4 linked regions of the Homo sapiens genome follow. The protein of the gene in region 1 purifies or fractionates together with the protein of each later gene. This does not show direct contact. Each region holds a gene or a part of one and is shown in the gene's direction. Other genes may lie near its edges.

What was found.
Region 2: the proteins of VWA5A (region 1) and UCKL1 purify together in Homo sapiens (affinity purification with mass spectrometry; 2 studies listed by BioGRID and IntAct, with this or other methods). This does not show direct contact.
Region 3: the proteins of VWA5A (region 1) and MTPAP purify together in Homo sapiens (affinity purification with mass spectrometry; 2 studies listed by BioGRID and IntAct, with this or other methods). This does not show direct contact.
Region 4: the proteins of VWA5A (region 1) and BRIP1 purify together in Homo sapiens (affinity purification with mass spectrometry; 2 studies listed by BioGRID and IntAct, with this or other methods). This does not show direct contact.

Annotation. Positions count from the first base shown.
Region 1 is NC_000011.10:124,118,440-124,125,465, forward strand, and holds part of VWA5A (von Willebrand factor A domain-containing protein 5A), read left to right. Parts: intron 1-93; coding exon 94-269; intron 270-535; coding exon 536-650; intron 651-4,520; coding exon 4,521-4,690; intron 4,691-4,926; coding exon 4,927-5,015; intron 5,016-5,220; coding exon 5,221-5,365; intron 5,366-5,797; coding exon 5,798-5,877; coding exon of another isoform or gene 5,878-5,881; exon of another isoform or gene 5,882-6,397; intron 6,398-7,026. UniProt on the Homo sapiens protein: May play a role in tumorigenesis as a tumor suppressor. Altered expression of this protein and disruption of the molecular pathway it is involved in, may contribute directly to or modify tumorigenesis.
Region 2 is NC_000020.11:63,939,417-63,946,442, reverse strand, and holds the end of UCKL1 (uridine-cytidine kinase-like 1), read left to right. Parts: intron 1-175; coding exon 176-282; intron 283-443; coding exon of another isoform or gene 444-467; coding exon 468-638; intron 639-720; coding exon 721-792; intron 793-916; exon of another isoform or gene 917-1,360; intron 1,361-1,708; coding exon 1,709-1,898; intron 1,899-1,984; coding exon 1,985-2,046; intron 2,047-2,421; coding exon of another isoform or gene 2,422-2,577; exon of another isoform or gene 2,578-2,773; coding exon 2,774-2,790; exon of another isoform or gene 2,791-2,886; intron 2,887-3,716; exon of another isoform or gene 3,717-3,812; intron 3,813-3,950; coding exon of another isoform or gene 3,951-4,680; exon of another isoform or gene 4,681-5,234; coding exon 5,235-5,333; coding exon of another isoform or gene 5,334-5,399; coding exon 5,400-5,493; intron 5,494-5,586; coding exon 5,587-5,649; intron 5,650-5,726; coding exon 5,727-5,849; intron 5,850-5,957; coding exon 5,958-6,065; intron 6,066-6,136; coding exon 6,137-6,293; intron 6,294-6,387; coding exon 6,388-6,467; 3' UTR 6,468-6,614; downstream 6,615-7,026.
Region 3 is NC_000010.11:30,318,273-30,325,298, reverse strand, and holds part of MTPAP (poly(A) RNA polymerase, mitochondrial precursor), read left to right. Parts: intron 1-2,681; coding exon 2,682-2,908; intron 2,909-7,026. UniProt on the Homo sapiens protein: Polymerase that creates the 3' poly(A) tail of mitochondrial transcripts. Can use all four nucleotides, but has higher activity with ATP and UTP (in vitro). Plays a role in replication-dependent histone mRNA degradation.
Region 4 is NC_000017.11:61,853,513-61,860,538, reverse strand, and holds part of BRIP1 (Fanconi anemia group J protein), read left to right. Parts: intron 1-631; coding exon 632-743; intron 744-3,307; coding exon 3,308-3,481; intron 3,482-7,026. UniProt on the Homo sapiens protein: DNA-dependent ATPase and 5'-3' DNA helicase required for the maintenance of chromosomal stability. Acts late in the Fanconi anemia pathway, after FANCD2 ubiquitination.

The DNA of each region.
Region 1 (7,026 bases):
TGGTGGGTGACATAAATGGGGAAATTTTCTTAAGGTTGAGAGTGTCATAAAAAGTGTTGGCAAGGAAAACAGAACTAAGGTCATCTTTTATAGGGTCGTCTAAGGACAGTTGCCTTAATGTGAAGACTCCTATAGTCCCTGTGGAGGACCTGCCCTACACACTCAGCATGGTCGCCACCATAGATTCCCAGCATGGCATTGAGAAGGTCCAATCCAACTGCCCCTTGAGTCCTACCGAGTACCTAGGAGAGGACAAGACTTCTGCTCAGGTAGTTAATGAGAGAATACTGCTATTGTCAGTACCTCTGTTGCTTGAGTCTTGACTTGGTCCCCAACCAGTTCTTCCCAAGTGGTAACCCAGAGGGGGTCCCACATGCTCCTTGCATATCGTCATTTAATCTCCAGAGCCTTCTCTCCAGCCTCACCTCTGTTCCTAGTCATGCTGTCTTATGGAGGAGGACTGCGCCCTAACCTCAGCCCCAAGAAGCAAGAAGTTATGATTCTAATGTGGCTCCTTTACCTGTCCTCCACTCAGGTTTCCCTGGCTGCTGGACACAAGTTTGATCGGGACGTGGAACTCCTGATTTACTACAATGAGGTGCATACCCCCAGCGTGGTTTTGGAGATGGGGATGCCTAACATGAAGCCAGGTATTTTCTTTCTTCCTTTGTAGTCATCCCCTAAGGGGCAACTCCCTGTCTTGGAATTACTGTCGAATTACTCTCTTTTCTTTCCTTCCCTCCAGGGGTGGTTAATACATGTGAAACACTGAAATAGTTTACACTATGTCATGCAAAAATGGTTAGGTTTAATGACTGTCATGTGATATGTCTTGTAGGCAAATTTAAGTAGATCAGTAGATAATTGGGCAAAAGCCAGGAACAGATAATTTACAAGAGAAAACATGGCCAGTTTATAAACATGTGGCAATGATCAGTCTTGACAGACATCCAAATAATCATGTGACATTTTCACCTTTCAAATTATCAACGATTTCCAAATCTGATGCCTCATGCTTTAAAAGGTTTTCTTAAGGTTGTGAGTGTGCTAAAAAGTGAACTAACCTTTCGAGGATAAATTTGGCCATATGTGTTAAATCAATGTTAACTTTGGTAATTTCACTTTTAGAAATCTTGCCTAAGGAAGTAAATCCATATATAAGTAAAAATATGCACTGAGATGTCCCCCACCATTTTAATAATATCGAGTATTAGTAAGCAATCAAAATGTCTCTTATTGGCTAAATTTGCTATGCTAGGTATACTTCATGAGTTAATATGCAGCTACTAAAATAGTGTATATTGACAGATTGAAGTAATTGGACAAATGACCTCCAAAGAATGTTACGTAAAAGAAAAGTAAGTTATAGACAGATTACCACTATAAAATACTCTGTGCTTTAGGAAAAACATTTTAAAACACAGGAAGAATGCAAGTAGTCATTGTGATTAGATTGACTAAGTTTAATTCTTAATTAAGAAAGTTCTTAATTTCTTTTTTATCTAATACATAATTTCTATTGATTGATTCATCACAGCTACATGCAGTCTCAACTGAAGTTTTTTTCTCTTTTCGAGATATAATATATGTAACAAAATTGACCATTTTAACTGTTTTTAAGTGTACAGTTCTGTGGTCTTCAGGACATTCACCTTGTACAACCATCACCACCCTTCATCTCCAAAACTTTTTTGTTTTGCCCTAGCTTCTTAATTTCTAAGACTAAGTTTAGCTTCTTAATAACTTTAGTTTCTTAGTTTCTTTTAATGTTTATTACTTTTGAAATTTTCCTTAATGTACATGCACTCTTTCTTGGAATTTAAATTGGTGTAACCCATGTCAGTTTGCTGTGTTCTTGGGGCCTTCCTGGGCTGCCATGCTTCTGAGTTTCGGTGACACAGGACTGGAGTGCTATTGCCACTTCTGAAGCATTTACACATGGTGGAATGGACATGTCCTTGGTGACAATCATATTCAAAGTGGGACGGCTTGGCTTAGGCTCTTGTTTTTACAATTATAGCTGTTGTCAAGAAAATTCCCTGTAGTTGTTTTTCTACAGAGTACCCTACTCTCTCATTGTTAATGTTTGCTTCCAAAGTAGCTTCATACTTGAGCTCACAAATTGAACTTTTTAGTTTTCCCTCACTTGTTCAACCACTCTTCCTCAGGGCAAGCTCTCCATGCTAAGGTCATTCAAGGGGCTCCCAGCTTCCACCAGATTTGCTGTAACCATCTCCTCTTCCACGAAGCTCCATGCTCTGTCTTTGTACGTTAGTTATCTGCTTTTTCCTTTCCTTATGGTGACTATTTCCTTGGGTGTCCATGAAATATTCCCATAACAGTGACCTACGTGTCAGTTAAGATTATTTCAAAGGACTGTTTTCACCAGAGAAAGTTCCATAATGTTGGATCTCAAAAGGTAAGGATTGAGATCTCAGTCCCTGTTTTTCTAAGAAGTTCCCCTGGCCCCTATGCAGATTTTCTCATCTAGTCCCCATGACCAGGTCTGAAGGCCAAGGGGGGACATCAGGGACAGTCTTTACAGTCTTGTGAATCCCTTCCAGCAGGACTGCTCAAGTCTTGCTTCCCAGGTCGTATATTTAGTCAAGATGACTTGCTGTTCTCATCCACACAAGGAAGCGAATGACAGCTTTAAGCGGCAGCTTGTCTCACTGAAACCATTCAGAGTTCTGCCAAATGAAACCTACAGATATATGACAAAAACACAGTATGTTATTTGTTTTACAGACTTAGAACAGATGTACTTACGATATTAAGAACATGTTTTTCTAAAATTAAATTTATAATTTAATTTAAAAATTGTATAAAAATAAAATTTACAAATAATTTTATAATATTGGTTATTATGGGTTTAATCTGAGTTGAGCCCTAAACTGAGTTCCTTAAGTACATTATATTACTTAACTCTTACAATCAAGCTTGTTCAACTCATGGTCTGTGGGCTGCATGTGGCCCAGGACAGCTTTGAATGCAGACCAACACAAATTTGTAAACTTTCTTAAAACATTATGAAATTATTTTGTGATTTTTTTTTTAGCTCATCAGCTATTGTTAGTGTTAATGTATTTTATGTGTGGCCCAAGACAATTCTTCTTCTTATATGACCCTGGGAAGCCAAAAGATTGGATACCCCGGCTTAAAATAATCTTGACGTAGGTGTTACTACCTTGACTTTTCAGAGGAAGACATGAGGCTAGCAAGCAGAGGAGCTAAAGTTTGAAATGCCTCATTTGAAAACAAAGAAGCTGAGACTCATGGAGGTGAAAATAATTTGAGCCAGGCTAAAATTATAGTAGATAATCCACATATAACGCTTACAATTCATCTGGCATTGTTGTAAACAGGTTAAATATGTTACCCCATATCATACTCATGCCACCCTTTCTGACTCCTCAATATAGCACCAGCTCCATTTAAACCAGCTGTCTCTGAGAATGGAAAGGAATCTTGCTCATCACAAAAGCTCCTCCTCCATCGTATATCCAGACATCTGGATTGTGTAAATGTTATTTTTTGAACTAGTGTCCTATCATATATTTGATGGGCAACACCCATCTTATTTAGAAGCCAGTTTGGTGTCTGGCATATCCTATGGAGAAGAAATTAAACTGAGCCAGATTCTATTGTCATACCAAATCCCAGGACTACTGAGAATATAAATCTATGATCCTGGAACTGCTTCTTAAAAATGGGATAAAGGAATTTAATTATATAGCCTCTTATATTTTCTGTAAAGCTGGAGTTAACCTAGCCATTCTCATTGCATCTCTATCTCAATACTAGCATTTCAATTCCTGTATCAGCCCTCACTTGCTTCTAAAAATAGTCACAGCTGTGGCTTTGACAACATGGCCAGATAGACTGGGCTCCTGTGGTCACCCCCACACCATTGTTTGGATGATGATAATAGAATCCAACATGTGTCTCAGTGTTTCCCTTTCTTCTGGGGACTATCAGCGAGTTATTCACACCCAAAGCAGACAGACTTACCTTGGTGGGTATAATACTTATACTCTCAACACTTGTAAATTGTCAACCTAAAAATTGTCCATGTGAGTATCACTTTTTTCAAAGCTGTAATTAAAGACTTAAGGCCCATGTGATACATTTCCCATTTATTTGATTTGAAGAAAAGGTTTGATTCTGCAGATAAACTTGTCTGATTCTTTTGGCAAATGCTGGAACATTTTAACCTAATGTATTTCATTCATTTGCCTAGCTGCCAGGAAACTAGTAATCAGTGACAATGTTTTAACTATTGCTTGTGTCTACTAACTTCTATCCTCTTTCTTCTCTTTCATATCTGTTCTGTTTTTGTCTGTCTTATATATTTATAACTCACCTTGACCCCATTGCAAGCAGTTATGGTACATGAATCATCACAGTGTTTTAGATTTGAGTTTTCCTAGCTCTTAATTGAATTCACTACCATTGATTCTTAGGTACTAGGATTCTTGAGTTCCTTTTTGTCTTACAGTGGCTTTATCCTTTCTGAACAGGTCATTTGATGGGAGATCCATCTGCAATGGTGAGTTTCTATCCAAATATCCCAGAAGATCAACCATCAAATACCTGTGGAGAGTTTATCTTTCTCATGGACCGCTCGGGAAGTATGCAGAGCCCCATGAGTAGCCAGGATACATCTCAGCTGCGAATACAGGCAGCCAAGGTAAAGCTAGTTTCTTTCCTCTTCTGGGTCACATGCTCAAGTGAGGATGAATCTGAGGGGTTAAATAAGGGTCTATCTGGAGCCTGAGAGAGCAGCACGACCACCCTGAGGCTAGCCTTGGAATGTAAGAAGGCACAAGGTGGGGGATGGCCCACATCCTCAAGAGTCGATTGACAGGGCCCATGTGTTTTGGCGAGCCTCTCTCACTCTGTCTCTTCATACTCTCTTACCTTCAGGAAACACTGATTTTGCTGCTGAAGAGTTTACCTATAGGCTGTTATTTCAACATCTATGGATTTGGCTCTTCCTATGAGGCATGCTTTCCGTAAGTTTCTGGAAAGACAATAGGGAGTACAAAACGAGACTTTAAAGAAAGGGACTAAATTGTTAAAGGGGTTACTGCGGAGTTGACTTTGGCATTGGGGGTTTCGGATAAGACTCTCTTTTAATGGGGGTTTCTCAATTCAGGGACTCTATACTGGGCAAGGTTAAGTAACCCTCATGTAACTGGGTGTGTTTGTTTTTCTCAGGGAGAGTGTGAAGTACACTCAGCAAACAATGGAGGAGGCTCTGGGGAGAGTGAAGCTTATGCAGGCCGACCTAGGGGGCACTGAAATCTTGGCACCACTCCAGAACATTTACAGGGGACCCTCCATCCCAGGCCACCCCCTACAGGTAAGAAGTGGAACAGAGCTAACAGAAGAGACAGGAAGTGTGAAATCTCTAAGAATCTATGCCCCTGAGCTTCATGCAGTATGTTGAAATATAGTTTGCAATTCACAGTCTTCTATCATATAGTAAACAGAAAAAAAAAAGATGATGCATTTGTCTTCTTCCTTAACTCCATGCGATGGACACTGGAAGGCCTTTTATGGAGTGCCACAATAACTGAGATGCAGCTAGGAGGGGAGGTGCTAAAAATTCCCAGGGTTCTGAACAGATCATGTGAGAATGTGGTGCCAGCGACTGAAACATTAGGGATTTCATGCCTCTTTGAAGAGGCACCAGAGCCTCTGCAATGAAATAGGTGGATTTTTCAAGGGCAAATTCTGGTTTCTTAAAAAGAACTTGACAAAGACCTGATGAACATTTTCTTTCTTTGTATAGCTTTTTGTCTTTACAGATGGAGAAGTTACAGACACGTTTAGTGTAATTAAAGAAGTTAGGATCAACAGACAGAAACACAGGTAGGAAGAAAATGTGATTTCCGGGTGATTGGTGCTGAGTAGTGACACACAGACTCTAGTGCTACATGATGCCGGTGTTGACCTTCCTTCAAGAGGACCAAATGATTTCAGAATTTAGTTTTAGCAGCTGAAAATTTATTTCTCCCTGTAAACGTTAAAAACAGTTTTCCAAATAACATCAACAACACAGCAAAACCATTGTTTCTTATTCTTTCTAAACTACAACGAACACAAGAATTGAATAGTAAGATGTTAATTTTTTTTACTATAAACATTTTTAGAGAAGTAAAACATGCTGAAAACTACACAAATTATAAGCATACAACTGGACTCATTATCACAGTGAATGCACTGTGTGATCGCCACATAGGTAAAAACTGGAATGGTCGTAGGCCTCTCCATCTGTACCCTTTTCCATCATGTCCTATTCCCTGTCACTACACACTAAAACTTTCCTGACTTACAATACCATGGGTTATTTATGCTTGTTTTTGAATGAAAATAAATAAGTTATACAGTATGCTTTTGTTTCTGTGTATATTATTTCTTTCCTTTCAGCAGTGTGTTGAGAGATTCATATACATTTTGAGTATAGCCATAGTTCATTTTCATTGATGTATAGTATTCCACAAAATGACTATGCCATAATTTATATATTGATTTTAATGCTGTTGGACTTCGATTTGGCTGTTAAAAATGATGCTGCTGTGAACAGTTTTGTATTCTTGTACATGTATTGTTTTGCACACACGTGTATATGCATACATACCTATTTATATACGTAGATTTTTCTCTGAGTAGACAGAATTGTGGAGTTTCTAGGGAATGCCAAACATTTTTCCAAATGATTGTACTAATTTAATTCATTAAATTGTAGGAGTGTTCCAATCGCCTAATTTCCTATCCAAAACATGATATTGTTTGTCTTTAAATTTTAGTTTTGTGTGTGTGTCGTGGTGTCTTATGGTTTTTTTTTTTTTTCTTGAGATGGAGTCTCGCTCTTTCGCCCAGGCCGGACTGCAGTGGCGCTATCTCGGCTCCCTGCCATCTCCGCCTCCTGGGTTCACGCCATTCTCCCGCCTCAGCCTCCCAAGTAGCTGGGACTGCAGGTGCCCACCACCGCGCCCAGCTAATTTTTTTGTATGTTTA
Region 2 (7,026 bases), on another chromosome or scaffold:
CGGGGGGGTGGGACCTGCTGCCGGACGCCTGCCTCCGGCTCCCCTCCAGTGCCTGTGGAGCAGGAGAAGGAAGCCGGGCAACCGCAGGCAGCGGCAGCGGGATGGGCACCTCTGGGACCTATCTGTGCCGGCAGCCTGCCTGTTCCTCACAGAGGGTCTCCACTCCCGCCGGCAGGCTTGGGAGGCGGCAGTGCCTCTGGGAAGACCACTGTGGCCAGAATGATCATCGAGGCCCTGGATGTGCCCTGGGTGGTCTTGCTGTCCATGGACTCCTTCTACAAGGTGGGCCCCCGCCCAGCTCCCCCGAGGACCCCTTTGTCCTCTCCCTGACCCTGGACCCCCTGCAAAAGTAGGTCCCTGGTCTCAGCCCCAGCGTGGCTGCTCCTGGGAGGCCTAGAGCCCCTGTCCGCTGGCATTGGGTGAGGGCCCTACTGTGCCCACAGCTGCTCCACAGCCTCCCCCACCAGGTGCTGACTGAGCAGCAGCAGGAACAGGCCGCACACAACAACTTCAACTTCGACCACCCAGATGCCTTTGACTTCGACCTCATCATTTCCACCCTCAAGAAGCTGAAGCAGGGGAAGAGTGTCAAGGTGCCCATTTATGACTTCACCACGCACAGCCGGAAGAAGGACTGGGTAGGCCAGGGCCCTGCAGAGGGGGCCTCGGGGGGCTGCAGGCACATGAGCCAGGCTCCGCAACTCCTGGGTTTCTTCACAGAAAACACTGTATGGTGCAAACGTCATCATCTTTGAGGGCATCATGGCCTTTGCTGACAAGACACTGTTGGAGGTAAGCACCCGCCGGGAATACCCACCCCGCTGGTATCTCAGCCCTGGCCGCCCTGTCCATGAGGTGTGCGTCCTCCTGCCCTGTCCCCAAGGCCTCCACACTGTATAGGCCTAGGCCAGCCACTCCCTACCCCAACCCCAACCCCAGGCATGCCACAGCTGGGTCCATCTGCCGGCCCCAAAAGGCAGAGCGTGGCTGCCTGAGGCAGTGGTTCCTCTCCACCGGCTGAGGCCTGTGCGCATACCTGGAGTGTCCTTGGCGTTCTCGTCCCTTGCCGTGGTCCTGACGGACAGGTGAGGACCCAGGGCTGGTGTGTTTGAGAGATTTTGCTGTAGCTCAAGGGGGCCTTCAGGACACAGCTGAGTGTGACTCAGGTTGGCCTGATCCCAGGGCCCAGGTCCTGCCCCTTGTACAGGCCCAGAGGACTCCATCATCCGGCACATAGCAGCCCCCAGCCTCCACAAGGCCTCTTCACGGGCCAACTACTGTGTGCTGAGCATGGGGACAGACCCTAAACTCGCCACGTCCCCCATTCCCCAGTGTGTTGGTGCAAGTTACCCCAAGCAAAGTAAGGAGATCACATGTGCCCAGCCCCATTCCTGCCTGATTCCTTAGCCAGCCACCATGCCATGCCTCTTCACCTAAGCCCCTGACGGGCAGCACCGCATCCCCAGACACCCCCACCTCCCCACTCCTTCCCACCTGCCAGGGTGCCCTGGGGAAGTGGCTCGGGCCAGGCCCACGGACCAGGTGCAGACACCCCCACCTCCCCACTCCTCCCCACCTGCCAGGGTGCCCTGGGGAAGTGGCTCTGGCCAGGCCCACGGACCAGGCGGCCTCAGTGCAGGGGCTGGTCCCAGTGTCTCCATGCCCACTGCTGGCATCTGGCCACTCACTGGCCCGCTGTCTCCACCAGCTCCTGGACATGAAGATCTTTGTGGACACAGACTCCGACATCCGCCTGGTACGGCGGCTGCGCCGGGACATCAGTGAGCGCGGCCGGGACATCGAGGGTGTCATCAAGCAGTACAACAAGTTTGTCAAGCCCTCCTTCGACCAGTACATCCAGCCCACCATGCGCCTGGCAGACATCGTGGTCCCCAGAGGTGAGCCTGCTGGGCTGCCTGTTGGGTGGGTGTCGGGCAGGCCAACGGCCCAGCCCCCGGTCACCCGCCCCCCCATCCCGCCCCAGGGAGCGGCAACACGGTGGCCATCGACCTGATTGTGCAGCACGTGCACAGCCAGCTGGAGGAGGTGAGCGGGGTCCCACGTCCCCACGGCCTAGCCCCCAGCCCCTCTACCCACTTCTCCGCTGCCACCACCCCCAGTGGCCTGGTCACCTCATCCCCCTGCGTTCACTGTCCCCTGCCAGGTGCCAGCCCTGAGTGTCCTGAGCCTGCTTGGCCAGTCAGATTGTCCAGCCCAGACCCCATCCCGTTGTGCTGTGCAGGGCCTGGGTTCCCTGAGGAAGCTGGGGTGGGGGTACAGGTGCTCAGGACCCAGCCGAGGGTGCAGCCCGCTCAGCACACCCAGCCTGAGCTTTTGGGAAGACAGGCATGACCTGCTGGCCCAGGATTGTGGGGTTTCACTGCTGAGTCCCACGCCAGGCCAGGCTCCTCTCTTTCTCAGGGGGTCACCCCAGGAGCGACACCCCCACCAGAGGTCCCCTGCTCCCTGAGGCATTCTATGGCTGGGCCTTGGAGCCTGAGTGGCTCTGAACACACTCCCTACCAGGATGTTGAAGGCCTGAGGCCTGCAGAACAGAGCCCAGGGTCCTGGCTCTGATTGCCCCAACGCAGAACTGCAGGTCTGGCCCAGGTGGTCCCCAGGTTACAGGCATTAGAAGCTTGCCACCCCCCATGGCTGGCTGTGTCCCCGCGGGCCTGCAGCATGTCCATTCCTGGGTGGGGGTGGCCTGGCCGCCTGCCCTGGTCACTGACGCGCCACCGTTCCCTTGTGTCTTCCTGTGTTGCTGCCACAGCGTGAACTCAGCGTCAGGTAAGACTTGCACAGCTGTCTGCACAGATGGAGGCACTTCCAACACCTCCAAGGAGCTCTGGGGTCTGGGCTGTGATCCAGCCAGGCAGCTGGCTCTTCCCCAGTCACAGAAGGGGTGGTGTGGAGTGGTCCCAGCCCTGCTTCTGCCTCCCCTTGCTGGCAGATGAGGACACTGAGGCACAGAGACGTGAAGTAGCTTGCCCAGCGTCACGGAGTCCTGACCCTGTCCTGGCCAGACTTTGCTGGAGGCTCCCCTGACTCCTGAGTCTGTCTATGGGATTTGACCCCAGAGAGCACAGCTGTCCTCCTGAGCCAGCACTGCCAGGCCTCTGGGGCAGTGACTACAGACATGTCCCAGCAGCCAGGGAGCCTGCTGTACCTCCTGTGCCCAGCCTCACGGACCAGTCAGCTTTCCCTGGTTGCAGGTGGAGGGCCTCGCGCCTGTCCTCCCACCCACCCGGGTCCTGCTTGCCCCAGCTCTGTCCTCGCAGCCCGCACAGCTCTGCCAGCAGGAACTGGGCAACTGCAGCAAGAAGCTTGGGCTGGGCCGGGGCCGCATCCCACTGTCCCTCCCCAAGGGCAGGCATGCAGGGGGGTCAGCCACAAGGGACCTGCCCTTCTCCCTGCCTTCTGTGGGTTGGGAGGCTCCTGACTGAGCCACCTGGAGGGAGAGCCCTCACATTCAGAGCCCTCCAAAGAGTTTGCCAAATGTTGGAAATGCCTCCAGGGCCCGTCCACCAGCCGTCCAGCTTCCGGTGCCTGCATGAGTCTCCGCTTGGCCCTCTCCTCGGCCTAGGAACCCGCAGGTCTTGTCCCGTCAGGTTCCTCCTGAAGCTTTTGTTCTGAGAGGAAAAACTTTCCAGGGTTTCAAACTTGGAAAAACACCTGAACGCAGCCAGACACATTTTCCGTCGTCTGGTCAGCCAAGGAAGTGTTGGCCTGTGGCTGCACTCACTTCCTTCAGCCCCAGGAAGCCTTGGTCGGGGGCAGGAGGGAGGGTCAGGCAGGGCTGGGGGCCTGACCGCCCACACTCCTCCTCAGGCCTGCGGGGAACGCCCTGCTCCCCAACTAAGCAGCCTTCTCTTTGTTCTCTTCCTTCTCTCTGTAAACCCCCGTTTCCTGCCTTGTTCCCTCCCTGAACATGCTCTTCACCTGGCAAGCAGAGGAAGCTACGTTGGGATATGTGAGCAGTGTGCTCCGTGGTGCTGCTGTGTGACCCGCCTTCCCGTAGCCCCTTGCCCCGCTGCTCCCGCTAGGCCCTCTTTCCTGCTCCTGCCCCGCCCCTTTCCCTGCCGCTGTCACGCCTCTTTTCTGCCCTGCCACACCCCATTTCCGGCCCCGCCCCTTTCCCTGCCGCTGTCACGCCTCTTTTCTGCCCTGCCACACCCCATTCCCGGCCCCGCCCCTTTCCCTGCCGCTGTCACGCCTCTTTTCTGCCCTGCCACACCCCATTCCCGGCCCCGCCCCTTTCCCTGCCGCTGTCACGCCTCTTTTCTGCCCTGCCACACCCCATTCCCGGCCCCGCCCCTTTCCCTGCCGCTGTCACGCCTCTTTTCTGCCCTGCCACACCCCATTCCCGGCCCCGCCCCTTTCCCTGCCGCTGTCACGCCTCTTTTCTGCCCTGCCACACCCCATTCCCGGCCCCGCCCCTTTCCCTGCCGCTGTCACGCCTCTTTTCTGCCCTGCCACACCCAATTCCGTGCCCTGCCTCTTTCCTTCCCCTGCCACACCCAATTCTGTGGCCTGTCGCTTTCCTCTTCCTGCCCCTGCATCACCCCCTTTCCTGCCCCGCCCCATTCCCTGCCCCTGTCATGCCCCTTTCCGGCTTTGCCTCCTCCCTGTCCCACCTCTTTCTTGCCTCCACCCCGCCCTTTTCCTGCCCGCTCCTAGACCTGCTGCTGCCCCGGCCATCCCCAGGCTTGGGCAGCGGGGCGGGACGGGACAGCCAAGAGACACTGAGCCAGCTTTGCCCCCCACCCCCCTCTCTTGAGGGGCCGCGCACCACCTCGGGGAGGAGCCAGGGCGGGGCCTGACCCCACAAAGCTTTAGTTCCCCCGGGGAGAGGCTGGGGACAAGCTACCCATTCTGGGGTATGACACCTATCAGCACGTGTGAGCCCGCCCTGTGCCCGGCCCACTTCTGCTTCCTCTTAGCGCAGGAGGGGTCCCGCACTGGGAGGGGCCCTCACAGCCTACCCCGCTAGCTTTCTGCCTGATGGTGAGCTTGCCCCGTTGTTCGCCGCCATCTTTCGCCTTTGCCTGACAGCTCAGGTAGGGCGACGTCTCCCCCCAGCTCAGCCCCAGGCAGAAGTCAGGCCCGCTCTGCACCTCGTGCTGTGCCTGGCCCGTGTGTTCCCCTCACAGTGACGCACAGCCGTCCTGTGGGGAGGGAGGGCTCTGGGAAAAGACCCCCTTCTTGAGTGTTCCCCATCGGTTTGTCCCCAGGGCTGCGCTGGCCTCGGCACACCAGTGCCACCCGCTGCCCCGGACGCTGAGCGTCCTGAAGAGCACGCCGCAGGTACGGGGCATGCACACCATCATCAGGTGAGGGCCCACCTGGGGACGGGGCGGCCCCGGGCGCGTGCTCCCGCTCAACTGTTGGCCCCACAGGGACAAGGAGACCAGTCGCGACGAGTTCATCTTCTACTCCAAGAGACTGATGCGGCTGCTCATCGAGCACGCGCTCTCCTTCCTGCCCTTTCAGGTTCGTAGCCCGTAGCCCGCGAGGTGGAGGGTGGGTCTTGGAGCCGGTGCGAGCTCCCTGCGCTCACCGGAGTCCTCACCCTGCACCCCACAGGACTGCGTCGTACAGACCCCGCAGGGGCAGGACTATGCGGGCAAGTGCTATGCGGGGAAGCAGGTACCTGCCTGGGCACACCTGGGCGCGGGACAGGCTGCTGGGGCGGGATGTGGGCGCTTAGCCTCCCCTCCCCGCAGATCACCGGTGTGTCCATTCTGCGCGCCGGTGAAACCATGGAGCCCGCGCTGCGCGCTGTGTGCAAAGACGTGCGCATCGGCACCATCCTCATCCAGACCAACCAGCTTACCGGGGAGCCCGAGGTGCCTGGGGGCAGCCGGGGTGATGAGCCCGGGGGTAGGGGGCAGAGGGAGCTCACAGCAAGGGGACGCAGGGAGCCCCACCTGCAGCCTGACCCCTGCTGCCCGCAGCTCCACTACCTGAGGCTGCCCAAGGACATCAGCGATGACCACGTGATCCTCATGGACTGCACCGTGTCCACGGGCGCGGCGGCCATGATGGCAGTGCGCGTGCTCCTGGTGAGTGAGCCCTGGGTAGGCGGGGCAGGTTCAGGCAGAGGTGGGATTTACCTGCCCAATACACTCGGTAGGACCACGACGTGCCTGAGGACAAGATCTTTTTGCTGTCGCTGCTCATGGCAGAGATGGGCGTGCACTCAGTGGCCTATGCATTTCCGCGAGTGAGAATCATCACCACGGCGGTGGACAAGCGGGTCAATGACCTTTTCCGCATCATCCCAGGCATTGGTGAGGCTGCCCGGGCCCTTCAGCCGCACATGAGGGCAGGGTGGGTGGCCCTGGGAGGCCCCACCACACTGGACCCCCCCCCCCCTTTTTCCAGGGAACTTTGGCGACCGCTACTTTGGGACAGACGCGGTCCCCGATGGCAGTGACGAGGAGGAAGTGGCCTACACGGGTTAGCTGCCCAGTGAGCCATCCCGTCCCCACCACCCTCCTCCTGCCTCCTGACCCAGGACTGCTGAATACAAAGATGTTAATTTTTAAAATGTTACTAGTATAATTTATTCTATGCATTTTATAAAATAAATAAAGCTTTAGAAAAATGAAGGTGTGATTGGTTACAGCACAGGAGAGGTGTCCTGGCTGAGGCATGCATTTGTGGAGACTCCCATGGGGAGGGAGGGAGGGAGCTGAGGGCCCTGCCTTCTCCCCTGCAGGACCAAGCATTCCCAGTCTTGCACTTGTGCCAGATGAAGGAAGGGGTAGAACTGGGCCCTGCAGCTCCTAGCTCTGCTAGATGGGGCCCCTAGAACCCATAGCTTGGTGGCCACCTGGCCTGGACCTAGGGAGGGGACAGGGCCCCCTGGTGCTCTGGGTCTCACAAGAGGCAGGCTGTTTTGCCCCCACCCACAAATTTGTACCATCAGGGTCCTCCCCACAGTTGGGGGGGGGGAGGGTCCTTCCCGTCAGGACAAGTCGCTGGAGGCAGCAAAGCCAGGAGGCAGACCAGGGCGGAAGT
Region 3 (7,026 bases), on another chromosome or scaffold:
ATCATAAGTACTTGCGACTTTCTCTCAAGTAAAACTCATGGAGTAAAGTCTGTGATTTCTTGACAAATTTTAGTATAAAAATATAATACTGTACTTTCTATCATTATTATATTTTCTTTGTAGTATGTAAAATAGGACAAAATTACATTTATCTTTGTAATTATGTTTTTTTCTTTATATCAAGATACCTTATACTTTTTGATATTTATTTTTAGCTTAATTTAGCTTCATTTTCATACATAAAACACTTAATCACAATGAATTTCTAAGTTGCTGTTTCTTCTTTTTCTTTTTCTTTTTTTTTTTTTGAGACATAGTCTTGCTCTGTCGCGTAGGCTAGAGTGCAGTGCCGCAATCTTGGCTCACTGCAATGCAACCTCCGCCTCCTGGCTTCAATCAATTCTCCTGCCTCAGCCTTCCGAGCTGGGACAGGCACATGTGATCATGCTGGCTAATTTTTGTAGAGACAGGGTTTCATCATGTTGGCCAGGCTGGTCTTGAACTCCGGACCTCAGGTGATCTGCCCACCTCGGCCTCCCAAGTGCTGGATTACAGGTGTGAGCCGCCACGCCTGGCCTTGTTTCTTCTATTCTTTTTAAAGACAGTTTTAGAGACAGTTTTAACTTGATGCTGTTAAATTATTTTTTTATGCCATCTGTTGGTTCTTGGAGAAATTACAAGACACGTTTTGATCAGTAGGAGCTTAATATTTTTAATTTAATTTAATTCTATTTTTACTTTTTTAGAGACAGTGTCTCTCTCTGTTGCCCAGGCTGAAGTGCAGTAGTGTGATCATAGCTCACTGTAGCCTCGAACTCTTGGGCCCAAACAATCCTCCTTTCTCAACCTCCTGAGTAGCTAGGATTACAGGTGCATGCCACCACGCCTGACTATTTTTTTAATTAAATTTTTAAAATTTTGTTTTTCTTTTATATATACATTTTTTATTTTTATAAAGACAGGGTCTTACTATGTTACCTAGGGTGGTCTCAAACTCCTGGGCTCAAGTCATCCTCCTGCTTTGAAATGCTGGGACTACAGGCGTGAGCCACAGTGCCCAGCCAATAAATGCCTTTTTGTCTTTATCGATTTTATATATATATATGTGTGTGTGTTTGAGATGATGCCTTACTCTGTCGCCAAGACTGAAGCCCAGTGGCTTAATTTTGGCACACTGCAGCCTCTACCTCCCTGGGCTCAGGTGATCCTCCCACGTCAGCCACCCAAGTAGCTGGGCCTACAGGTGTGCGACACCACACCCAGCTAACTTTTGTATTTTTTGTAGAGACAGTGTCTTGTCATGTTTCCCAGGCTGGTCTTGAACTCCTCGGCTCAAGCTATCTGCCCACCTCAGCTTCCCAAAGTTCTGAGATCACAGGTGTGAGCTACTGTACCCAGCCATTTATTAATAATTATAAAGCGCCTTTGTGTGTTTTACATATTATTTAAATCATGTTTAGAAACTTTGATTTAAAAATTCTAAGTTCTAGGCTGGGCACAGTGGCTCACGCCTGTAATCCCAGCATTTTGGGAGGCCGAGGCGAGTGGATCACGAGGTCAGGAGATTGAGACCATCCTGGCTAACACGGTGAAACCCCATTTCTACTAAAAATACAAAAAAATTAGCCGGGCGTGGTGGTGGGCGCCTGTAGTCCCAGCTACTTGGGAGGCTGAGGCAGGAGAATGGCGTGAACCCAGGAGTCGGAGCTTGCAGTGAGCCAAGATCGCGCCATTGCGCTCTAGCCTGGGCGACAGAGCGAGACTCCGTCTCAAATAAATAAATACATACATATTCTGAGTTCTAGATCTACATTTTCTTTATTTCTTTTTTTTTTTTTTTTTTTTTTGAGGCAGGGTCTTGCTCTGACACCCAGGCTGGAGTGCAATAACGCTTTCTCGGCTGACTGCAGCCTCCGCCTCCCGGGTTCAAGTGACTCTCCTGCCTCAGCCCCCCAAGTAGCTAGAATTACAGGCATGCGCCACCACGCCCAGCTAATTTTTGTATTTTTGTTTAAGACAGGGTTTCACCATGTTGGCCAGGCTGGTCTCAAATCCTGACCTCAGGTGATCCGCCCGCCTCAGCCTTCCAAAGGGCTGGGATTACAGGCATGAGCCACTACGCCTGGTCCTAGATCTACATTTTCTTTCTTTTTTTTTTTTTTTTTTTTTTGAAACGGAGTCTTGCTCTGTCTCCCAGACTGGAGTACACTGGTATGGTCTCAGCTCACTGCAACCTCTGCCTCCCGGGTTCAAGCAATTCTCATGCCTCAGCCTCCTGAGTAGCTGGGATTACGGGGGCACGCCACCACGCCCAGCTGAATTATTGTATTTTTAGTAGAGAAGGGGTTTCACCTCGTTGTCCTTGAACTCCTGGCCTCAAGTGATCCGCCCACCTCGGCCTCCCAGAGTGCTAGGATTACAGGCATGAGCCACCGAGCCCGGCTTACATTTTAATTATCAATTTTAAGAGGATGTTTTAATGGGAATGAATGTATTTGATATTCAGCCATTCATATTAAATTTTATATTGCAAATTCATAATGCTTTTGATTACCTAATGATGTTCTGAATACATTCAGATATAGTAGGATATTTAGATGTGTTTCTTGGTTTGAGTTTAATTTTACCCTTGGTTTATAATTTGGGGATTTGAACATTTTTCTTATTTTTATTTTTTGAAGGATTGCCTTGACAAGTTCCGAACTCCTTTATATATATGGTGCCCTAGACTCAAGAGTGAGAGCCTTGGTGTTCAGTGTACGGTGCTGGGCTCGAGCACATTCACTAACAAGTAGTATTCCTGGTGCATGGATTACAAATTTCTCCCTTACAATGATGGTCATCTTTTTTCTCCAGAGAAGATCACCCCCTATTCTTCCAACACTAGATTCCTTAAAAACCCTAGCAGGTAAGACTAGAAAGAAACTTCTCCATTTTCTTTTTCCAATGTTATGAGTAAATATAATTACCATGTGTTACCAAAGTCCCGTCTATTTGTTTATTAGTCATAAAATTTGTCTTGACTTTTTTTTAAAGTCTACCGGAGTCACGAGAGCAGATGATTTGGGAAGCTAGGGCCTTTAGCATTTTTTGAGAGTTCTGTTTTCTTTGTATCAGTTGGCAAGGTTGTTTACAGCAGTTGTGAGATAGCTGGAGCTTCTCCCCTAGTTGACCAAGTCTAGAATGACCTTTTTCAGATACAACTTGTTCAGATACAACTTTTGATTGGATCACAGTCTCAGAGATGACTTTCAAATCTGAACTTATGTTTAGACTTGTATTAGAGATACTAAAACTGCTTCGTGATGTTTCAAAGATTCTAAATGTGTTTTTAATGAAAAGCATATAAGCAGTCTTAGGTGCATTATTTTAAATTTGACATACTATATTGTTTGTATTATAAATGATTTTATAAATGCCTCCCAGATTCAAGTGATTCTTGTGCCTCAGCCTTGCTGAGGCCTGCTGGAGAAGTTATGTTATAAAATCTTGAAACTGTAAATGCTAAAGGGAAGATAATTAAGGGGTACATACACACAAATGCATACTGTCTTCTACCCGTCTTACATAATTGCTGCCTGATAATTCGATTAAGTGCCTTCTTGAATCTTCCTGTTTAAAATGACCTTAAGAGGCAAACTATTTACATAGCTTGGTGTTTAAAATCTTTAGCTCTCTAGACACGGCCCAGTTTTCCATGCTCTTCCCTACTCCTCTTTATGTGTCCCACATTCCAGCCAGTGCTGTGATTACCCTTGGAACATTTCATCTTAGCTTTTTGTTCACACTGTTTTTCTGCCTGGAATCTGCTTTCTCTTCTCCCAGTCTAAATTATTTCTTCCATGCTACCTTCCTTTATCCATATTAGAAGTGATCTCTTCCTGTTAACACTGTAAGTGTTGATATTGTTTGAAATTGACCTTAAAAAAAGCTTGATTTGTGTTTACAACTAATTGATCACAACCAGTTACAAATTTCTGTGTTCCTTCTCCACTCTCACTGCTTCACTTGACTAGCCTAAAGAAATAAAGTAAAATGAAATAAAATAAAATAAAATAAAGCTAGATTTGATAGGTTAAGGGAAAATGGGAAGTTTTCAGTGGGGTAGAGTGGTGGTCACTTATCTCACTTTTGAGATTAAAATAAAGGGCAGCATCAATATCTGTGCTCATTTCATCCCTTAGTGTCATTCATTCAGTATTTACTGATTACTTCCTATGCGTCAGGTGTTATTGGAGTAGTGGGGGTATGAACAGTGTTCCCAGATAACTCACAATCTAATGGAGAGGTAAGCCATACATAAGATATGGGCAGATCTTCACCACTAAACTACCTGTAAGTAGCACTTCCTTTTCCACTCCTGCTGTGTGCAGTGGTGCTTAATGCTACTCTCATAGAAACCATCGTGGGGAAAAATAACGGAACTTTGGGAGTTCAGAAACTAAGAAACAGTAGAAGCTGTAAAAGGAGGAGCAGAAGAAAGTTGAACTTGGGGTAGACTACTCCTAAGCATCTTGATTGCTCCCTTCAGTCTTACAAGTACTGGTACCCCTGCCCATGTTAAGGCCCTGTTGTCCTCTGCCTGGGAAGGCTTATGTTGTCTTTCCTCCTTATCTCAAGTTTGGTTCCCACCAATCTATTCTTAGTTAAGAGAGTGATTTTCACAAACACATATGATAGTATTACCCTCTTTTGCAGTCCTTCAGTAACTTTCTATTATCTTTTTTAAAAATGGTCACTATTTTTTTAAAAATTTTATTTATTATTTATTTATTTTAAGAAAGGGTCTTGCTCTGTTGCCCAGTCTGGATTACAGTGGCACAATCTCGGCTCACTATAGCCTCGACCTCCCGGGCTCACGTAATCTCACTTCAGCCTCCTGAATAGCTGGGACTATAGGCATGCACCACCATACCTGGCTAATTTTTTAATTTTTTGTTGAAACGGGGTCTCGCCATGTTTCCCAGACTGGACTTGAACTGGGCTCAGGGGATCCTCCCATCTTGTTCTCCCAAAGTGTTGGGATTACAGGCGTGAGCCACTGTGCTCTACCTTGTAGGCAGGCTGGAGTGCAGTGGTGCAATCTTGGCTCACTGCAACTCTGCCTCCCAGGCTTAAGTGATCCTCCCACCTCAGCCTCCTCAATAGCTGGGATATACAGGCTTGTGCCACCACTCACTCAGCTAATTTTTTAAAAAACTTTTTGTAGACATGGTGTCTTACTATATTGCCCAGGCTGGTCTCAAACTCCTAGGCTCAAGCGATCCTTCTCAGCCTCCCCAAGTGCTGGGATTTTAAATGACCTGTTGAGTTTTTAATTCCAAATCTACATTAAAATACATTTAAATATGTTCACATCGTATAGCATCAAAACAGGCAAAACTAGCTTGGAATTCTTTAATATTTCACTTGAAACATCAAATTTGATTGTTTTTAAATTTTTGCAGTAGTTTTTAAATACGGTAAGAGAATTTTTCAGGCTAGTTTTTGCAATTGCTTCTCGGCATATAGCACATTGTAGGTGCGAATTGCCAATAAATGCCAAGCAAAATACACTTTTTGCCTTCCATCACCTATGGTTTTTGAAGTTGCTGTAAAAGAACTTGTCTTAGATTAATGTATATTAAGAATTTGGTGAAGATCATTTTGAGGAGAATTTATCAATATTTTCCTTTTCCTTTTTTTTCCCTCCAAAATCCATGGTTTTTATACTTTCTAATTTTGACCAGTAGTTCAACTTTGGTGGACATTAAACCTAAGGAAGAAAACAATTTTAAACTGTGAAACAATCAAAACCATATTGAGTACTTGGTGTTTAATCATGTAAGTGACCTGAATCTTGTGTACAATCATTTCATTTCTTCTAAGCTGTACCTCTCATTTGATATACAAATAATCAATTTGTTCTTTTTTAAAAGAAAAAATATTTTATTTGCTTCCTTGCTTGTTTATTAATAGAAGGCAACATGAATTCCTAGAATACCTTCCAGAACTTCTAGGATTTTGTAAACTACTATTTAGAACCTAAGCTAAGCTAAAGACCAAACTTTTTCACATTGTATGCAGGGCCCTTTATCACCTTCCTTTTTATCCTCTTCTTTTACGTTGATTCCTGTATACCAGTTGGGAGCTTTAGCCACTCTTGAACTCCTTGATGATCCCTGATGTTTTGTGCTTTTTTTCATTGCTCCATGCTTTTGCCTGAAATGGCCTTCTCCCAGCCTCCCCCTCCCAGCCACCCCGCTTTTTTTTATGGAGAATCTCAAGATTAAGCCAGAGAAGACAGACAAACCTAGTACAGGATCTCATCTGTTAGGTCTTTTCTTGCTGTCCTCTCTGCTTCCCAGTGGGTAGTGCTTTGTTGGTTTCCAAGCTCTTGGTACACACCTGTATTGTAACAACTGTTAGATTGTTGTAGTTCTTTTATGTGCCTGCCTCAGCATTGTCAAGCTTTTCTAGGGCTAGCTGTCTGCTTCACCTCTGCGTCTTCTGTTCTCGGAATAGTATTGGGTTCATAGTAGGAGTTCACTATGTAGATTTCAAAATGATTGGATAACATTTTAAAGTTGAGGGCTGTTTGTACTGGGCAAGATGGACCATGATATTAACTTTCATATTTGGTTCCTCTTGAATTGCCCTGTTTATTTGTGTTTTCTTATAATCTCCACTGTGTTCTCTCATATGTCTCATTTTCTTGTGTTTTCCATGCTTTCTGGCTTTGCTACTTTTGTTACATTTACTTCTGTGCTTAGTGCTTTAATTGAAGATTCATTCCTGAAAAAAGACACAGCAGCTAAAAGAGCATCAATATATGTGACTGACACTGCATCACAAAAAAACATACACTGTTAATTACTTGAAATAGTAAAACATGTGCTCAGGTTCCTTAAAAATAGATCTAAGTAGAAATATATATACATACATACATTTTATATAGCTCCTTCAACATATTATAAATTGTATAGTAGAGCACGTAAAATGTGCTATTAAAATGTTAAAACCTAGAATAATTTTTGAGAAATTATG
Region 4 (7,026 bases), on another chromosome or scaffold:
ACAGGGATGCGCCACCACGCCCAGCTAATTTTTGGATTTTTAGTAGAGACGGGTTTTCACCGTGTTGGCCAGGCTGGTCTCGAACTCCTGACCTCAAATGATCCACCTGCCTTGGCCTCCCAAAGTGATGGGATTACAAGCGTGGCTGCTGCTGTGAACTTTCTTATGCATGTTTCCTTGTGTTCATGTGGGAAAGGTTTTGGGTGTACACATAGAACTGGACTTGCTGGAGCTGGGCATCTTCACTTTATAAGAAATTGTTTATTTCTCTACCAAGTAGTTGTAACAATTTGTACTCTCACTAGCAGTATCCTTCATTAAGTTTTCATCAAATATATTGATAGGTAGTAATGTATTCTGGTTTTACAGAAATCATTGATGCTTGCATAATTCTGGCACAGATTCCTCTTTTCATTTCTTCTCTTGTGCTTGATATTTTAGTAAGATAATCTTAGGGAGAGGTGTAAAGGAATACAGTTTGGATTTAACTAAATATGAGTTCCTTCTGCTATTGTTGTGTTCCCTGGAGTGCAATCTCACTTTTCCTTGCTGTTCTATTTAAACTTCAGATGGAGAGAGACCTTTATAAAGTTAATATGTTTATTATTTTCATTGGTTTCTGTGTTCATAGATTCTCAGAGGATTAAACAGCAAGCAACATTGTTTGTTGGAGAGTCCCACAGGAAGTGGAAAAAGCTTAGCCTTACTTTGTTCTGCTTTAGCATGGCAACAATCTCTTAGTGGTAAGTAGTTGCTTGATATCTTCAGGTTACTTACTGGGATCTGAGAAAATATAATACAGTATTCTTTATCCAGACTGGTTCAGCCATGCTGTCGCTAACTTAAATATTTGTTTAAAGATGTTTCTTTGAAATAAGTTATAAATCTTCCAAAAGAGTTTCAATATAGCAAAATATGTTTAATTAATGCTAAAATAGTATTGAACATAATTTAGTCTTTTGATGAGTCGGAAAGTACATAAAGACTTGGCAGCCTGGGCAGCATGGTGATACCCCATCTCTACAAAAATTGACAATCAATTAGCCAGGCATGGTGATGTACACTTGTAGTCCCAGCTACTTGGGAGACTGAGGTGGTAGGATCGCTTGAGCCCAGGAGGTCGAGGTTGCAGAGAGCTGTGATTGTGCACTCCAGCCTGGGTGAAAGAAAACAAACAAACAAAGTTTTGGATGCTTAGAGTTATTATAAAAATAATTAGATGATAATTTGTATGTAAAAGATGCAAGAGATGGGCTGTCATGATGCTGTAACACATACTAATTGCTTTTTTTGGGGGGGGAAATCCTTTAATATATTTGCTTACCTGTTCCTTTCTCATAACATCAGCACATGGAATATATAAAAAAGAATACATTCTAGTTGATCTTTCTACTTGTTTAAATGCCAGATAAACAGAAATTTAGTATAATATTGTTTGTATGAATTTATATTACTTCCCACTACTTTTCCTTTTTTTTTTTTTTTTTTTGAGTGGCGTCACCTGGGATGGAGCATAGTGATGTGATCATAGCTCACTGTAACCTCAAACTCCCAGGCTCAAGTGATTCTCCTGCTTCAGCCTCTTAAATAGTTGGGATTATAGGCATGAGCCACCAGGCCAAACTATTTTTACTTTGTTTGCTAACAAATGCCTATTAATATTTACTTCTATGAAAGACTATATAAACTACATAATGAATCAGAAATATAATATTGGATACATTTTAGTTACATTAGATGGCTTTAACCTAAAGTATTAGGAGAATTGAGGTTAAACATGGTATGTGTATGTATGTATGTATGTGTATATAGGTATATAGATACATTTTTAAAATGAAATGTTTGTTACTAATAAGAGTATATTAAGGCTGGGCACAGTGGCGCACGCCTGTAATCCCAGCACTTTGGGAGGCCAAGGCAGGTGGATCACCTGAGGTTGGAAGTTTGAGACCAGCCAGACCAACGTGGAGAAACCCCGTCTCTACTAAAAATACAAAATTAGCCTGGTGAGGTGGCGTGTGCCTGTAATCCCAGCTACTCGAGAGGCTGAGACAGGAGAATCACTTGAACCTGGGAGGTGGAGGTTGCAGTGAGCCGAGATCGCGCCATTGCACTTCAGCCTGGGCAACAGGAGCGAAACTCTGTCTCAAAAAAAAAAAAAAACAGTAAATACTTCATAAGCTTTTGGTTGTTCATTTTGATTCTCACTGACGTTAATTTTGGGAAAAATGAGTTTATCGGTACTAACTTCAGGTCTTAATGGCAGATGTCTGGAAAATAGAATTAGGAATATTTATATGGTACAAATGGGAAAACAATGTCAATACTGATTATTTTTAAAAATAAATTATTTAGCTTTTTTGGGGGTATATGAATTGTACATTTGTATACAATGTAGGCACACAATGTAAACTTATTACAATTTGGTATTATATTTAGCACTAAAATTACCTATTTTATTGATTTGAATATTGACCTTAAAATGTATTTTGATGCAAGTATCAGAATTAATACATCAAAAAACATGTTTCTATTTGAAATAGAAGTATAATTGGGGGAATGATTTAACCCTTATGTGTTAGATTATTATCTAATATATTGAACTTTCAAATTCTTCATTTAGGGAAAGAGTAGTAATTAAGGATATACTTTATGTCCTTGTTTCAATCCATTCTTGAATTTTAGATAAATCTTAATATAAATGAATACTTGAGTAGTTGTACTTTTATTACATTATTAATCTTAGATTATTAGATTTTTACAGATTACATAAATGGGTGATAATTTCCCTATAAATGTTTTTGTTTTGGTTTTTGAAACAGAGTCTTGCTCTGTCGCCTAGGCTGGAGTGCAGTGGCATGACCTCTGCTCATTGCTACCTCTGCCTCCCAGGTTCAAGCGATTCTCCTGCCTCAGCCTCCTGAGTAGGTGGTATTACAGGCGTGCACTACCACGCCTGGCTAATTTTTGTATTTTTAGTAGAGACAGGGTTTTACCATATTGGCCAGGCTGGTCTCAAACTCCTGACTTCAATTGATGTGCCTGCCTCGGCCTCCCAAAGTGCTAGGATAACAGGCGTGAGCCACTGTGTCCAACCAAATGTTTTTGGCTTATTTCTCTCCTGTCCTAATTTGATGCTGCAGATAAAGTGACCAGCTTGTCCAGGTTTGCCAGGTACCTTCCTGGTGTTAGCCCTAAAAATCTTTTATCTTAGGAAACCTCCCAATCCTGGGTGAACTGGGCTGTAGAGAATGATTGATGTTTATTTAATTAGATATATTATAAATAGATGTTCTTTCATTTTTAGGGAAACCAGCAGATGAGGGCGTAAGTGAAAAAGCTGAAGTACAATTGTCATGTTGTTGTGCATGCCATTCAAAGGATTTTACAAACAATGACATGAACCAAGGAACTTCACGTCATTTCAACTATCCAAGCACACCACCTTCTGAAAGAAATGGCACTTCATCAACTTGTCAAGGTAATTTATATTTTGCCTGGGTCAGTTGATATCTGTAATAAGAGTCTTAATTATTACTGTTATAAGCCCTAATTTATATAAGTTTGGTTAGCATAACTGATTATATATCTCTATCTAGTTTCTCTGGAATGATTTTAAAATAGCACAGAGTGGTCAAAAATCCATAGACGTTTTTAAATTCTTGGTTTGACTTTTAATTTATTGAGACATTTTGTTGTCCTAAATAATTTTTTAAGGAAGGCAAGGCAAAATAAATGATTTTCCAAAATTGATGTTATTTGTAGCCATTATTGTTAATTATATGTTAGAATTCTATAAAACAATGTTTGTATCCTAAGACGAAATCTAATTAGCCTCATTGATTCATTCTTGATAAGTTTGCCTGGCCTTCTGAGGCCAGTATCCTACATAAGTATCAGGTATGTTTATGTGTGATCTTTAAATAATTTTTACTAATTTTAGAGAAATACATTAAGAGTAACATAAGATTATTAATAATATATTTAAAAAATATTTCACCTGCTTTTGGCTGTATAGAAAGGATAGACTATTATTTACCTAAGAAACCTAGGGAACATCCTGGACACTTTGCTCTTTCTTATTTCTTCATGTACATCTCCATATCCATTGGTACCTCCATAGTCCAAACTACCATTTCTTGTTTAGAGCATCCAATAACGCTTTTTTCTGCTTTTACTCATGCTATTCCTTTACCAGTCACTGGCAGGGAGACAGAGGTTGCCATGATTGACTTAAGTCAAAACAAAGAGTATCCATTTCCTAAAATCAAGGATGGAGTCAGCTTCCTCTAAAGCATGTGACTATATAGAGGAGGGTAGATGATTGAACTTCTGGTAGGAATGAGGAAAGAGAAGTGGAACAGTTATTAAATAGGTGACCAATAGTGTTGTCTACATTGTTTTGATTTTGGCCTTTTGGATTTCTTCCCTTTCCTTCAAAGATTTATGCTTTCTCCTTCCTCAGAGCCTTTGCTTCTATTAGTGTCTCTTCTGAGCAAAGTTCCATCTTCAATTTATTATCCTTTTCTTCCTCAGTTTACATGTGACTTCCTTGGGGTATCCATCACTGATTTTTCTGTCAGAGTAGATTTGATTTTCCTATTATAGTCTGTCTTCTCCTTGTGTACCTTTCCTTTATAGCACTTGTTACAGTTTGTATTATATGTGTCTGTCTAAATCTTTTATTAATCTCTGCTTCCTTGGCAGACTACTTCATGAGGTTAGGAATATTGTCAATTTGCTTACCATTGTATCCCTAGAACTCTAGCAGGGTGCCTGGCATATGGTAGGTGCTAGATAAATATTTGTTGTTAGGAATGAATGGGATTAATTTTCAGCTAATTATAGGAATTCTGGTGTATAATATTTATATACAACCTTTTAAAAACAGCTTTATTGACGTTTACTTGACATAACAAATTGCATATATTTAAATGGTACTTTTTTTTTTTTTTTTTTTGAGACAGAATCTCACTCTGTTGCCCAGGCTGGAGTGCAGTGGTGTGACCTTGGCCCACTGCAACCTTCACCTCCTGGGTTCGAGCAATTATCCTGCCTCAGCCTCCCAAGTAATTGGGATGACAGGCGCCTGCCACCACACCCAGCTAATTTTTTGTATTTTTAGTAGGGACAGGATTTTACCATGTTGGCCAGGCTGGTCTCGAACTCCTGACCTCAAGTTACTCACCTGCCTCGGCCTCCCAGAGTCCTGGGATTATAGGCGTGAGCGACCACGCCCAGCCTAAATGGTACACTTTGATACATTTTGACATATGTACCTCCATGAAACTTTCACCAGAATCAAGACAGTGAACATACACACCAACCCCATATTCACTTTATCCAAAACTTTTTAAACATGCTCACTTTCCCAAAAAGTTTTCTCATGGACTTTTGTTATCCCTCTTTCCCACCCCTACATGACTCACCTCCCCAACCAACCACCTGTCTGATTTTTGTTACTATAGATTAGTTTGCATTTTCTATAGTTTATATAAATGGATTCATACAGGATGTATACTTATTTTGTCTGGCTTCTTTCACTTATGACAATTATTTTGAGATTCCTCTATGTTGTTGCATGTATTAATAGTTTGTTTCTTTTTATTTCTGAGTAATTGTGCATGGATATACCACAAATTGGTTATTGGCTGTTTATGTATATTTGGGTTATTGCTAGTTCTGGGCTATTACAAAGACAGATACTGTGAACATTTGTGTCTACATCTTTGTATGGATGTATGTTTTCATTTCTCTTGGGTGAATACTAGGAGCAGAATGACCAGATTGCTTTGTAGGTGTGTATGTTTTAACTTTTTTTTTTTTTTTTTTTTTTGAGACGGAGTCACTCTTGCCCAGGCTGGAGTGCAGTGGCGCAATCTCAGCTCACTGCAACCTCTGCCTCTCGGGTTCAAGTGATTCTCCTGCCTCAGCCTCCCAAGTAGCTAGGATTACAGGAATGTGCCACCACACCTGGCTAATTTTTGTATTTTTAGTAGAGATGGGGTTTCACCACGTTGGTCAGGCTGCTCTGTAGCTCCTGACGTCAAGTGATCCACCCATCTGTGCCTCACAAAGTGTTAGGATTACAGGCGTGAGCCACCGTGCCTGGCCAACTTTTTAAGAAATTTCTAAACTGTTTCATGAAGTGGTCATACCATTTTATATTCCCATCAGCAGTTATGAGAGTTCCAGTTTCTTCACATCCTTGTGAACCCTTGGTATGGTCAGTCCTTTTAATTTTAGCCATTCTTTTTTCCTGGAGATAGGGTTTCATTCTGTTGCCCAGGCTGGGTACAGTACTGTGATCTTGGCTCACTTGGCTCATTGCAACCCCTGCCTCCTGGAACCAAGTGATCCTCACACTTCACACTCCCTAGTAGTTGAGACTACTGGCATGCACCACCACACCTAGCTAATTTTTATAGTTTTTGTTGGTTTTACTGTGTTCCCCAGGCTTGTCTTGAACCCCTGGGCTCAAGTGATCTGCCTTCTTCGGCCTCCCAAAGCACTGGGATTATAGGCATGAGCCACCATACCTGGCCTTAATTTTAGCTACTCTAATAGGCATGTGGCAGTATCTCATTGTGGTTTTAATTTTTATTTCCCATATTTTCATGTTCTTATTAGCTATCCATGTATCTTGTTTGATGATATGTCTGTTCGAATAATTGCCTATTTTTTATTAGTTTGTGTTCTTACTGTTAAATTTTGAGACTTCTTTAAACATTTTGAATACAAGTCTTTGATCAGATAGAATTTTAGGTTTACATTTAGGTCTAAGATCCATTTTGAGTTAATATGTGTATATGGTGTAAGGTATGGATTCAAGTTCATTTTTTTGCATGTGGATATCCAGTTGTTCAGCACCTGGATATATCGAAAAGGCTATCCTTTATCCACTACATTGCCTTTGTGTCTTTATCAACAATGAGTTATCCATATGTACACAACTTGATTTTGACATTACTGTGAGTCAGTGTTATTTAGAATAGTCTAAATGGGAAAAATCAAGGTTGTATTCTG